2 separate regions of the Homo sapiens genome follow, and region 1 is reported to be linked to region 2. The links are microRNA targets in miRTarBase. Many come from high-throughput screens and were not tested one by one. Region 2 holds a microRNA gene; the other region holds the end of a gene's coding sequence.
The links. The annotated mature microRNA hsa-miR-302f reads UAAUUGCUUCCAUGUUU and lies in region 2 at 3,964-3,980, opposite strand. An mRNA with a match to its seed (bases 2 to 7 or 8) in the 3' UTR can be bound and repressed. Matches are read on the target gene's strand: a 7mer-m8 pairs with bases 2 to 8, a 7mer-A1 pairs with bases 2 to 7 and ends in A, and an 8mer does both.

Region 1: the mRNA of SNAPC3 is a reported target of hsa-miR-302f. The part of its 3' UTR that is shown has no 7-base or 8-base seed match.

Annotation. Positions count from the first base shown.
Region 1 is chr9:15,458,265-15,465,591 of GRCh38, reverse strand. It overlaps SNAPC3 (small nuclear RNA activating complex polypeptide 3), which reads right to left. Exons shown (of 9, transcript NM_001039697.2): 9 at 3,966-5,873. The coding sequence ends at 5,726. It overlaps PSIP1 (PC4 and SRSF1 interacting protein 1), which reads left to right. Exons shown (of 16, transcript NM_033222.5): 16 at 12-1,526. The coding sequence ends at 72. Among named protein-coding and RNA genes, the nearest start is that of SNAPC3, 39 kb to the right of the region's middle.
Region 2 is chr18:30,295,550-30,302,915 of GRCh38, reverse strand. It overlaps MIR302F (microRNA 302f), which reads right to left and starts at 4,006; the gene lies at 3,956-4,006.

The sequences.
Region 1 (7,327 bases), not on the chromosome of region 2:
CTTTTCTTCAGGCCATCCAGTGAAGAGAGAGAGACTGAAATATCTCTGAAGGATTCTACACTAGATAACTAGGTTGACATACCTGGAATATAGAGAACACTTGAGAAGTTTGTAATGGTTTTCATTTGAAATAGACTGCTGAAAGTTTTAAATTTTTATAAGCATAGGTTTGATGTTGAAAACTTGTTTTGAGGGAGAAAATCCCTTTGTTTTAAAGTAAAGTAAACATTATCGCTAAGTGTACTTGTGCAGTATTAACAGCTACATTATACAGTAAATGTGGGATAAAATCCATTTAGAAAATGTTAAACTGCTTTTCCAGACATGGTTGTAGCATATTTTCAATTAGTGTGTGTATGTTAATGTGTAATTGATAGTAGAACAAAGTTACATTTTTAAAACTGCTACTTGTATAAACCTTGCCTCTTTTCCCAAATACTGTGGGTTTTGTGCATAGTTTTTACAAACCTTGGATTTACCAGACTGTCTTTTCACTGTTTGTGGGTTTTGTAGAAGTTACACATTTTTATGGTAGATAAAATGTTACTTCTATACAAGTACTCACTCCCTTTTTATCAAAAGTTAATTTTAATCTCACAGTCTACATTGTGCTACATTATCCAGCTTCTTTGGAACAATGTGTGCTCTGTATGGTTTTTTTTGGTATGACAACTAATTAAGCAACTGACATGGAACTGAGAATTCTACAAACTATAAAACATTAATTTTTGAAGGTAATTTAGTTTTGTGGCTGGGCATTCAGTGAAGTCTTAGGACTTCTTTGCAGACAACTGACTGGGTATATATAGGAATGAATCTGGCTTTAGGGTTAAATCATTTAAGGTCCTTTTATAGGCAGGCACTAGTAACTAAAACTGAAAACTAAGTAAGTTTATTTTTGAGGAATGTTGTTAAAAATGTCTTTAGGAAGTCACTAAAACTTAATTGGAAGAAAAAATCATGATGCTTATACAATAAATATGAATAAATGTTATATAAGGAAACTCACCTATTTGAAATCATGGCTATATTGTTTTTATTTTCTAGATTCCAAAAATACAAACACTAGTTGTTCCAGCATTGTACTTTGATAAGTCTGTACATTGACGTGTATGGACTAAATCCAGGGTAAAATCAATGTTACAAAATTTAAGGGTATGTTAACTAAAGGATAGCATTTCTAAGATATTTTGAATATTAGGGTCATTTGGCACTTCTCAGCAAGTAGGATACTTCTCATGTTTTGAAATTATATGAATATGGAAAAAAATGGCTTAAGACCAGCGTCTCTGTATGACATTGTGTGGTTGACCCTCTGAGATAACTGTTTTCATCTACAGAATTGCATTTTTGCTTTTAAAGAGGTCTTATAATGGAACTAGGAATCACCGTTTTGAGAGAACCTGCATATATACCAGTCATTATCTGTTTGGTCCTTATACAGTTTTAACTTACTTAGATTTATTCTAGTTAAGCCATAAGTTCAACGTGTAAACTTGTTTTCATTAAAGAATTTTTCTATCAAACTCTGCTAGTAAATTACTTTCTTGCTATTTACAAGAGTAAGTGATGGAATTCTGGGTTTGCTGCCAAGGAAATAATTTCTTAGTTAACTGGTCACAGAGGTTGTGCTGTTTTGGGAAACGGGGTAACTAAACAGTAAGCTCAAGATGATAAAAAATAAAGGTAATATTTATCTTTTGTTCACCCTCCCTTTCTTCCCATGACCCACCAGATCTATAGTTTTACAAAGAAGCCACAGAATATTCCAATTCTAGAGATAGAGCATCATTCTCATAATTTATGTCAGCTTGTACAGGCTGACCTTGCTCTAACTAGTTGATGTATGTTCGCTTCAAGCATAATTGCTGTTTCTTTAATCATAACTCTCAAGAAATGGTGTCATAGGCTGATTTACAGATAACTTCTCAGAACTCTTGATAATTATTCATAAGACTTAAGAACTTTCAGGATCATTGAAATTGTTCATTGGCTCAATTTGTGTGTGTGGTCAAAACTCCACAGCTTGACAAGGCACCAAAAGGTAATTTTGAGATAGATAACCCCCACCCCACCCCACCCCACCCCACCCCACCCCTCCAAAAAGTACGTGTAATATGTATGTTTTAACACCTCTTTTGGGCTGGTATGTGTGTGTATGTACGTATGTGTTTTGATTACTGGATAAAAGAGTCATACATCAGCCGGGCGCAGTGGCACGTGCCTGTAATCCCAGCTCCTCGGGAGGCTGAGGCAGGAGAATTGCTTGAACCCGGGAGGCAGAGGTTGCAGTGAGCTGAGATTGCCCCACTGCACTCCAGCCTGGGAGACAGAGCAAGACTCCATCTCAAAAAAAAAAAAAAAAAAAAAAAAAAAGAGTCATACCATGACCAAGCAGAACTGACCATTGAAGGTTTTCTTAGCTGCTTGGAGAAATTGCAGATACATCTATCTGAATCTGAGAACTGACTGGGATTTGGTATGTGAACAACTGGAGAGAACCATACACTTTATAATTAATATTATATCCAGTGATTTCAAATAATATGATAGATTTTGCTGATACAGTACTGCTGTCTGTGTTCCTACTCATACACTTACCTGGTTACAGATGTTAGGTCAAGATGAGGTCTGCATCTAATCCTGTATAAGAGCAGAGATTTTTCATAGGGTGCTGTGAGGGCTTTGCTAACTCTATTTTGTCCGATTGGCCAGAAAAAGGATGCTCTAATGGAAATAGCAAACCTGTATCATTAAACTCTTTAGAAACAAAGAAACTGGTTTAATAGGCAGAAATGTGTTTATGTTTGTGTCGTGTAATTCTGCAACACAATGTTAGAGATGACTGACCTTTCTCCTAGTAAAACTAGAATGTCTAATTGTCCTTAAATGGTACTGATGCCTGAAGAATGTTTAAAGAAATAGCTATTGCTTCTCTAGTAACTTCTGTGCATGTGTATCCACTATTATATAAAAGTCAAATTCAACTACCAAGCAGGTTGACATGTTCATGACAACATTTTCAGTTGCCTATCTTCATTAGCTAATGTGTTACATGTAATTTGACAGGCGTGTTACATTTGATTGAAATAAGCATAAAGAAAAGCTGCCTCGAAAAAAGAGAAAAGCTGTCTTAAATCAGGGGTTTTATAGCTCCAGAAATATACAAAGTTAGGAATTTCTTTTGACTTGAACTTGGTGGGATACCTGTATAACTGATACATAACACACGGGCAAACTGTGGGAGTAACCTGGTTGATTAACTTTTCTCCTCAGTTTCACCAGGGAACAATAATAGGTACCTGAGTCTTTGATGAAAAACTTAACCTTAAGAACTAGCAAAATAACATTCTCAAATAATTAATAAAGAATCCCAGTAGCAGAAATGTTTTAACTGGCATGTTTCTTCTTTGTCCGCTAAAATGTATTGACACCACACATGGAATAATGCATTATGACAATAATTAACTTTTTGAAGTTTGGTGTTTTGAGAGTATGAAATGAATGAATAAGATAAAATATCCTTGCATATGCATGTAAGACCTATAAGGAACGCAGTATTGAAAATAAAGGAATCAAAATTTTTACCCATGGAATTTTAGGGTTGGGTAAATCATTCATTTATCTTAAATCTATGGTTTGCTGGCAGTTATCAATCTGCTCAATTTTAGCATTGTTGTATACAAGAAAGTAAAAATTTAGGTATAACATAAGCCAGCCTCTTAAGTTCTCTATACTGATTATCTGTGTACTGACTGAATCAGTGAATGAGAACACTAGACATACCAGAAACTCGTGCTTGTCATCTCCAAGCCAATGGACTTAACTGTTTGTGGCATTTAAGTCCATAAAACATACTTCACTGTCAAACACATAGGCTTATAGGTTTCGTCAGTTTTCCATGTGTAAGATAAATGTCTGTTCTTAGCCATCCAGATATTCAGTCAAATTTAAATACAACCTAGGAGAGAGAAAGTGGAATTTATTTATTTTAAATGATGCATTTGAAATCTATAGTATTCCTAAAAGTCTTCTAAACAGTATTAAATGTTCTACCCATAAAGGTTCCCAGAAAATATTTGAATAAATCTATCTGATGGTCTAGACCTGAAAATAAAGAAAGTTTATTTTGCTGGGCGCTGTGGTTCATGCCTGTAATCGCAGCACTCTGGGAGGCCAAGGCGGATGGATCACTTGAGGTCAGGAGTTCGAGACTATTCTGCGCAACATAGTGAAACCCTGTATCTACAAGAAATAAAAAAATTAGCCCGCCATGGTGGCCTGTGCCACCATGTCTCAGCTACTCGGTAGGCTGAGGTGGGAGGATCACCTGAGCCTAGGGAGGTCAGGGCTCCAGTGAGCCAAGATCACGCCACTGTACTCCAGCCTGGGTGACACAGTAAGACCCTATGTCAAAAAATAAGTTTAAAAAGTTTTGGTTTTTTTTTTTTTCCTCAGAATAAGATGAGAGTAACTAGAATTACTATAGTAAGGGGACCAGAAGAATGGAAGACCTGGGCCAGGAAAACTTATTTTTTTTCTTTTTGCTTATATAATTTTGGTATATATCCAATAGTATCATTACCGGAGAATAAGTGAGCCAGAGCTAGCAATCAATAGGATCTTGATTTTTCCATGTCCCCACAGTCATACGAAATCTGCTATTGTTTTTTAAATCATAGTATTAAATTGACATATTTTAAACTCATAACATTCATAAAGCTTTTGTCAAGAAATAAAGCTTCAAGTTAATGTTATTTCTGGAGTTATGAGTATATACTCAAGATCTTTTTAAATTCATTATTCACATAGTCTTATTAACATGTCTTGTATGCCTAGTTTCCTCCAAAACAAAACCTAACATTACTAAACAGCACACTAAGATTAAATTCCCCCAAAGCAGCCGGGCGCGGTGGCTCACGCCTGTGATCCCAAAATTTTGGGAGGCTTAGGCGGGTGGATCGCCTGAGGTTAGGAGTTTGAGACCAGCCTGGCCAACATGGTGAAACCCCGTCTCTACTAAAAATACAAAAATTAGCCAGGCATGGTGCCAGGTGCCTGCAATCCCAGCTACTCAGGAGGCTGTGGCAGGAGAATCACTTGAATCCGGGAGGCGGAGGCTGCAGTGAGCTGAGATTGCGCCACTGTATTCCAGCCTGGGCAACAAGAGCGAGATTTTGTCTCAAAAAATAAATAATCCCAAAGCTATTAATTTTGTCTTATTTGTAAATAATTCATTCTCCCTAGTTTCCATTACAGTTATTTGAAGGATCTTTACCTTGGAAGCCTCATGGTAGAAGGTGTAGCTCTCACATTCTTCAAAGAATTTTCAAAACACTTCCACTACTTGATGTATCATTAATAATTCTATCTTTAGCAAAAAACTCTGGACAGAGAATGAATAGGGAAGGCATGGATTGGGAGAAAGAATATGTGTGTCTGACAAAGGATTTAAAGTCAGAATATATAAAGTACTACAACTCAACTCAAAATGGGTAAAAAGCACTAAATTAAATACTATCTGGAATAAATATAAAATTAAACTATGTTATAAACATTTAAATACTATCATTATAAGAAAATCTGTCATTTGGACTTTTTTTTGATAGCTTTAGCGGACTGTTCAAAGTGGATCCTGTTCCTCAGTGGCGTTTCTTAGAAATAAGGTAACCATCCAAGAGAACAGTTATTTCATGAGGGGGTATTTTTGTGAGTGTAGCTATTCTTAATTAAAGGTTCCAGGATCAACATAAGGATAAGCAAGGAATTCCCCCAGTTTGTTGCCTTCTGAATCATAGTGCAGCATTCGGAAGCAAACATCACAAAAGAAGCATGGGTCCTCTGGTGCAAAACTGTCATTGTTCGTCACCCATCTGTAGTTTTTAAAAAAAGAAGTACATCATTACAATCAAATTTGCCATACTTAACATGCTTTATGACCTGTAGCAATATGTAAATATAACATTCTATTTCCTTATCAGTCTGTTATTAATGCATAATAATCCCTTAATTTTGTATACATAGATACAAATACATCACCACCAATACTCTCTCTACAAAGCGAAAGGGCATCTAACATTAAGAAACACTGCAGAATGCTGTTTCTCTGTAATACTTACCCTTAAAGGAAGAATATAAATCTATTTGAAAGCATCACACATTTGCCACGACATACCTATCCTCCAAGTACGAATATAGTCATTTTCTTCTAACAGACCATCTTGAAAAACCATGGCAAAATTAGATGCTACAAATCTGATAGACTTTTGCTTAATATACCTTCTTAACTGATAAATGAGTACTGGTTAATTTGAAAACTATATAACTCTTTTTACCTAGAACTCAAGATTATGTTATAAAGTATATACAAATAGCAATATGGGCAACATTATTCAACCAAAATGTTGAATGGCATGAAGATGCTATTGTATGGTATGTTTGAATTCTGCATCTCATGGAATGTTTGCTTTTAACATTATTTTCACTTTGATTTATCATGTTTTCCTATTGATCTTTCAGAAAAGAATATTGTGGTGGGGTGGCGAAAACAAACTGAAGATACAAGTTGAGTATCCTTTATCTGAAATGCTTGGGATCAAAAAGAAGTATTTCAAATTGCAGATTTTTTTCAGATTTTTAAATATATTATGCATATATTTGCCGGTTGAACATCCCACTGAGAATTTGAAATCCAAAATGCTCCAATGATCATTTGAGCATCAGATGTTGCCACTCAAACACTTTCAGGTTTTGGATTTCTGATCTTGAAATTTGGAATGCTCAACCTGTACTAAATTTCCTTTCCTCTGAGTGGCTTTCAGATTTTTTTTATATGTTTTTTATAGTTACTGCTGTGTTGTCCAGGCTGGTCTCCAGGCCTCAAGCGATCCTCCCACCTCAGCCTCCAAAAGCAACAAATTTTTTTTTTACTGACCCACAGTAAGAAATGCCTTATAATCTAAACATGTAGAATCACATAAAGTAAAAATTTTATAAAACTATATTTTAACTTCATGTGATGTACTGTGGTTTTATTGATGAAGTTTTATTGATGAAGCTGATTATGTAAACTATGTGGACAAGAGGCAGAAAGAACATGGCTCTCGAGCATTTTGGATTAAACAAGGTTTTCTTTGGTTAGACTTCCCAAATCCCTTTATGGTAATGTGCACTGTGACCCTCTAACAGGGAGTTATTGTACAGAGCTTTTCTTGAATGTATTCTATCAGAGAATTCTTTGCTTTGCTTAACACTAGTGACTTTTATTTTTATTCACCTAGCTGTATACATTTTACAAGCCTGAAATTTGACCTATCCCTGGACTTGT
Region 2 (7,366 bases):
GTGCATGCCTGCAGTCACAGCTATTTGGGGAGGTTGCGGTGGGTAAATTGCTTGAGCTGAGGAGTTTGAGGCAACAGTAAGCTATGATTGTTCCACTGCTTTCCAGCCTGAATAACAGAGTGGGATCTTGTCTCTAAAACAATTTTTCAAAACTACAAAACTACAATGCATACAATGCATTTCCATAAATTACATGATGAAGAACTTTTAATATGGAAGTACTCAGACAGGCACCTATCTAGGACCTGCTGGGGGGTTATGTTGGCAACTTTCTGATGAAATGCTATTGAAGTTGAAACTATATGCATATCCTTAGGACTGCTCATAAGTTTTCTGTGTTTTCTTTTTGGATACTTTTCACAAATAATCTAATTATCTTCCTTCTTTGTATTTGGTAGTATTGTACTTCCTCACTCCAATCCTTACTCTCCCTTGAGTTTAGAAATAGCTGTATGTCTTGCTTGAGTCATTGAAAGTGAGTGACAGTGATGTCTTAAATAGTTTGTATATAAATCACCTAAATAAATTGTTGTTGCTATAGGACTTTAAGATTTATTGCAACATATTTTAGTTCTGACTGACACAGATAAGAATGATGACCAACAGTTAGAAAGGGAGGGGTTAAAGTAGAGAATAGTATTGATATGAGAGAACAGATTATGCAAAATCCTACAGGTAAATAGAATGATGACACCAGTTAAACAAGGATTAAGTGGAAATTGGAATTCAGTAATATTTGAAGGAAATCTATGGTGTGTGTGTGTGTGTACACACATTGTGTTTCTGTGTGCAAAAAGAGCTTGTGAGAAATGAAGTTGGAGAGGTAAGACAAAGCATGATCATGCATGTTAAGGAATTTATTCTATGAGCGAGTAAAATTTTTTGAAAGGATTTAAGTTTGCTACTCAGGCAAGTAGATTAGTGTTTTTGAAGTATCAGGCTTATTAGAGTGTGGTAGATGGCTTGGAAGAAAGCAAGACTGATGGCAAAAGTTATGAGTTAGCAGATTGTTGGTATAGGGAAGAAAAAAACGTATACTTGAACCATACTAGTAGCTACAGAGGTGGAGACAAGTGAATGCAGCCATGCCATGTTAGAATTAGACTCTACAAGATTTCTTGACTCGTTGTGCTGGAGTCAAGAATAATTTTCAGGATTAAGTAGGCAGCATAGAAAGAAAAATTGGTTTTATGTAAGAGACAGGGAATCCAGTTGTAAAGAGGCTGAGTTTGAAGAGCCTCTGAGACATCTAGCTCCTGTTGTAGACTTCAGCTCCTGTCCATTCTCATGGAAGAGTATGAGTCTCTAGGAGATCTGGCATGTTAGCTGATATTGGTTAGTCTTAGCATATCACCGAGGGACAAAGAGTATTGAGGAAAAAAATTAGTGGAAGATGTGTTCTTGGAAAATATGTTAAATAAGAAGATATCCATACAGAATATCTGAGAAGTAGTGACTATAGGGACAGAAAAAAAATGTCAGGAGTTTGCAGAGTAAGAGAGGACAAGCAGATGGATTCAAGAAAAAAAAAAGTGCCAAAAAGTATGGAGAAGTCAAGTAAGCTAAGAATAAATGACGGGACTCCTCAATAGGAAAGTTACTGGATAACTTACGGATGTTTCAGTGGAATACTACAGGCAGAAGTCAGATTGTTTCAAGTTGAAGCATTAATAGGAAATTAGTGAAGTAAAGATATGGAGACAGTGGTGCTTGTTTTAACAGAGAAATGGGGAACATGGTAACAGAAACATTACAATAAAGCAATATTTTTTCAATTAAAAAATAACTTGAAGGTATTTGAAGGTCATGAGAACACACCAATAGAAAGGAAGAAAGGATAATAATCAACAGCATACACAATAATCAATACTGTATACAATAGTGGAAGTGAAGGAAATCTGAATGCAAACAGAGCCAACATTTTCCACTGGTTAAGAAAAGAGAGAAGGGAGAAAGACTTTGTTTATGTTAAGTTCCTACGTTTCACATCAAAACATAAAAGTTATTTCTATTTGGTACTGTCTAAGGATGGAAGTAAGGTATCTTATGAGCACAAGAGGAGAGAAAATGAAATCTAAGGTTTGAGGAAAGTAGAAAAATAATGAAATATTTTCTTTCTGACAGAAGAATGTGCAGGAAAATGAAGATGGATTGCTGAGCAGAATTTAGGGCCCAGTAAGAATGGAGACCTGGATATTTAGTGGCACCAATTCATAAATATCCAGAAAGCCTGAGCCACACTGGAACATAAGATAGTAAAAGTGGCATTTGAGATTTAGCAAACTCTTCATCTCAATTCCCAACCCAGAGAATATACAACTTGCATTTCTGAATCCTTCAAGGTTGCATTGTTCTAGGCAAGAAACACCTACCATTTACGACCTCTTGTTCAGAACTGAAAGATGCCAGAGCTGCTGTTTTTGTTGCTGTTGTTACAGAGAACACAATGCAAAGGAATGATTTTGAAGGTTCGAGAGCATTGAAGGTTAAGGTTGTGGAAGGGGAAGCAAAGAGAAGTTAAGATGAAGATATTGCGGGAAAAGAGGGATTAATACACTGTCTTATATCTTGGGCAGAAATTTGAAACTTAAAGGTTTAATTGCTTCAAAATTTCTATTCCTCCTGGTGGATGAGTGTTTAGTGGCAGTCTATCAGTGCTTAGGGAGTCTTAGACAGGAACCCTTAACAGAAGGAAAACATTTATGTATTAATTTTCACTCTTTTCTCAATAAAATAACAAAAAGTAAAATTATGTATGCTCAAGAATCATCAGTATATAAATACAAGAAAATATTCCAAAATAACACCAGGGTATATCTCTGGTTAACGAAATTATAGGAATATTTAATTTTCTTCCAAATGCTTTTTCTAATTTTTAAATGTTTAAAATCACAATTATTAAACACCTTTTCTATTTTAAATATGCCTATAATTCTTCCATTGTAGTTATTATTTAAGGCAAATAATTATCTTGGCCTTGGCGTCAACAGTTAAAATGCAACTCCCCTTAGAACAATCATCATTATATGCTTTAAATATAACAAAAGTTGGTTTATTAAATTACATTTTCTTTGGTAGGAACAAAGTAAGGCAGTGATTTCGAAAATTTTTAAGGCTATTAAATAAAATATAGTGGGGCTACTAGGAATAAACAATGTATTTTCACATCAACAAAAATTACTTATCCTTTGACTGTACAGAAAAGTAATATAAAATAAAAAGAAACAAATACGACCTGCAGGCAACACTCTTAACTGATTTATACCACTTTGGCAATCCCTAATCTCCCTGCTTCAGATCAGCTTTTAGCATTAATACTGTGACACCTAATAGCTGAGCATCCTATCAACGCAAAAAGTGCAACTTTAACTAGGTGTTTCTGATACGTGGCAAAGTCACTGATTTAATTAGAATCATTCCTTTAAATTTCAAAAGTTCACTGTTACAGTATTTTCACAAATGCCTCTAAAATTAAGTGAATGTTTTTGAGTTAAATTTTATCTCATTGATGATTGGTGGCCATGTTACATCATACCATTCCATCTTTCAGTATAAATAAGATAAATCTAGAGAAAATAGAAATGACCTTTGCATCTGATTAAAGTATATTTTGTATCTGGTATTTTAAAATAGGATCATTTAAAGTTTTCTATGGCAAGTTGATTTGAGAAACATTCATTTCAAGAGCCAAAGGGAAGCCTACTAATGCATTTATCTAAAACTAACAATCATAATTAGCTTAAGTTATGCAATGCCCTCAATAAATAAGTGACGGTTTTAAGCCAAGTCATATTTTTGCTACTATTTTGCTAAATATTTGTGGAATAAAATGATTTGAATCATTTGCAAGTTATATAAGCCATTAGTGATTATGGCCCAAGGTATCAACGGAAAGTTATTTAAGTAATTTCCAAGGCCTGTTCCACAGTAGACCAGATGTTAATCATCTTTTATGTCTTTTATAAACATGGAAGCAATTAAGTGAAAATTGCCAGGTTTACACAGAAGACATTATCATTGACAATTATAGTATTAGAGAATAACTAGTGATTTAAGTTTTATTGAAGAATACAAACTTCATACCATATTACAATGGCCCTTTTGTAAACTATAAAACAAAGCAAATTAAGTAAATAAACACAGGAGATTTCCAGAAATATTCATGGGAAGGGAAAGAAAACATTTGCAGTACAGCAGTGAATAAAACACAGTCTCCCTTAGAAATAGTCAAAAAAATACATGTGAATGTGATTAATCTTAAAAATAGTGAGTTAAGGGAGAGTGTGATTTTTATGATGGTCCAGTCTTTTGATTCTGAGAGAGGTACCATACTAAAACTGAGGCTAATCTATTGCTTAAAAGAACCAAATGTGTCTCTGCCAGGTTTTGATATCAGGATAATGCTGGCCTCATAAAATGAGTTAGGGAGGATCCCCTCTTTTTCTATTGTTTGAAATAGATTCAGAAGGAATGGTACCAGCTCCTCTTTGTACCTCTGGTAGAATTTGGCTGTGAATCCTTCTGGTGCTGGGCTTTTTTGGTTGGTAGGCTATTAATTACTGCCTCAATTACAGAACTTGTTATTAGTCTATTCAGGGATTTGACTTCTTCCTGGTTTAGTCTTGGAAGGGTTTATGTGTTCAGGAATGTGTCCATTTCTTATAGATTTTCTAGTTTATTTGCATAGAAGTGTTTACAGTATTCTCTGATGGTAGTGTGTATTTCTGTGGGATCAGTGGTGATATGCCCTTTATCATTTTTTATTGTGTCTATTTGATTATTCTCTCTTTTCTTCTTCATTGGTCTGGCTAGTGGTCTATCTAGTTTGTTAATCTTTAAAAAAAAAACAGCTCCTGGATTCATTGATTTTTTTAAGGGTTTTTCATGTCTCCATCTCCTTCAGTTCAGCTCCAATCTTAGTTATTTGTTGTCTTCTGCTAGCTTTTGAATTTGTTTGCTCTTGCTTCTCTAGTTCTTTTAATTGCGATGTTAGAGTGTCGATTTTAGATCTTTCCCACTTTCTCCTGTGGGAATTTAGAAGCCAGTATTATCTTGATATGAAAACCTGGCAGACAAAAAAATGAAAAATTCATGCCAATGTCCCTGATGAACATTGATGCAAAAATCCTCAATAAAATACTGGCAAACCAAATCCACCAGCATATCAAAAAGCTTATCCACCATAATCAAGTAGGCTTTATCCGTGGGATTCAAGGCTGGTTCAACATATGCAAATCAATAAATGTAATCCATCACATAAACAGAACCAATGACAAAAACCAAATGGTTATCTCAATAGATGCAGAAAAGGCCTTCGATAAAATTCAACACCCCATCATGCTAAAACCTCTCAAAAAACTAGGCATTGATGGAACATATCCCAAAATAATAACAACTATTTATGACAAACCCACAGCCAATATCATACTGAATGGGCAAAATGGGCTTTCAAAACTGGCACAAGACAAGGATGCCCTCTCTCACCATTCGTATTCAAGATAGTATTGGAAGTTCTGGCCAGGACAATCAGTAAAGAGAAAGAAATAAAGGGTATTCAAATAGGAAAAGAGGAAGTCAAATTGTCTCTGTTTGCAGATGACATTATTGTGTATTTAGAATACTCCATTATCTCAGCCCAAAACCTCCATAAGCAACTTCAGCAAAGTCTCAGGATTCAAAATCAATGTGCAAAAATCACAAGCATTCTTATACACTAATTATAGACAAACAGAGAGCCAAACCATGAGGGGACTCATTCACAATTGCTACAAAGAGAATAAAATACCTAGGAATACAATTTACAAGGGACGTGAAGGAACTATTCAAGGACAACTGCAAACCACTGCTCAAGGAAATAAGAGAGGACACAAACAAAGGGATAAACATTCCATGCTCATGGATAGGGAAAATCAATATCATGAAAATGGCCATACTACACAAAGTAATTTATAGATTCAATGTTATCCCCATCAAGTTACCACTGACTTTCTTCACAGAATTAGAAAAAACTACTTTAAATTTCATATGGAACCAGAAAAGAGCCCGTAGAGCCAAGGTAATCCTAAGCAAAAAGAACAAAGCTGAAGTCATCACGCTACCTGACTTCAAACTCTACTACAAGGCTACAGTAACCGAAACAGCATGGTACTGGCACCAAAACAGATACATAGACCAATGGAACAGAACAGATGCCTCAGAAATAACGCCACACATCTGCAACCATGTGGTCTTTGACACACCTAACAAAAACAAGCAATAGGGAAAGGACTCCCTATTTACTAAAATGGTGTTGGGAAAACTGGCTAGTCATACGCAGAAAACTAAAACTGGATCCCTTCCTTACACCTTATATAAAAATTAACTCAAGATGGATTAAAGTCTTAAATGTAAGACCTAAAACAATTAAAACTCTGGAAGTAAACCTACGTAATACCATTCAGGACATAGGCATGGGCAACGACTTCATGACTAAAACACCAAAAGCATGACAACAAAAGCCAAAATTGACAAATGGGATCTTATTAAACTAAAGAGCCTCTGCACAGCAAAAAAACAAACAAACAAAACAACAACAACAAAAAACTATCAAATCAGAGTGAACAGGCAACCTACAGAATGGGAGAAAAATTTTGCAAGCTATCCATCTGACAAAGGGTTAATATCCAGAATCTACAAAGAACTTAAACACATTTACAAAACAAAACAAACAACCCCATCATAAAGTGGGTGAAGGATATGAACATACACTTCTCAGAAGAAGATATTTATGTGGCCAGCTAACATAAGAAAAAAGGCTCATCATCACTCACCATTAGAAAAATGCAAATCAAAACCACAATGAGATACCATCTCATGGCAGTTAGAATGGTGATCATTAAAAAGTCAGGAAACAACAAATGCTGGAGAGGATGTGGAAAAATGGGAATACTTTTACACTGTTGGTGAAAGTGTAAATTAGTTTAACCATTGTGGAAAATAGTGTGGCAATTCTTCAAGGATCTAGAACCAGAAATACCATTTGACCCAGCAATGCCATTACTGGGTATATACCCAAAGGATTATAAATCATTCTACTCTAAAGACACATGCACACATATGTTTATTGCAGCACTGTTTACAATAGCAAAGACTTGAAACTAACCCAAATGCCCATCAATAATAGACTGGATAAGGAAAATGTGGCACATATATACCATGGAATACTATGCAGCCATAAAAAGGATGAGTTAATGTCCATTATAGGGACATGGATGAAGTGGAAAGCTATCATTCTCAGCAAACTAATACAAGAACAGGAAACCAAACACTTCGTGTTCTCACTCATAAGTGGGAGTTGAACAAAGAGAACACATGGACACTGGGAGAG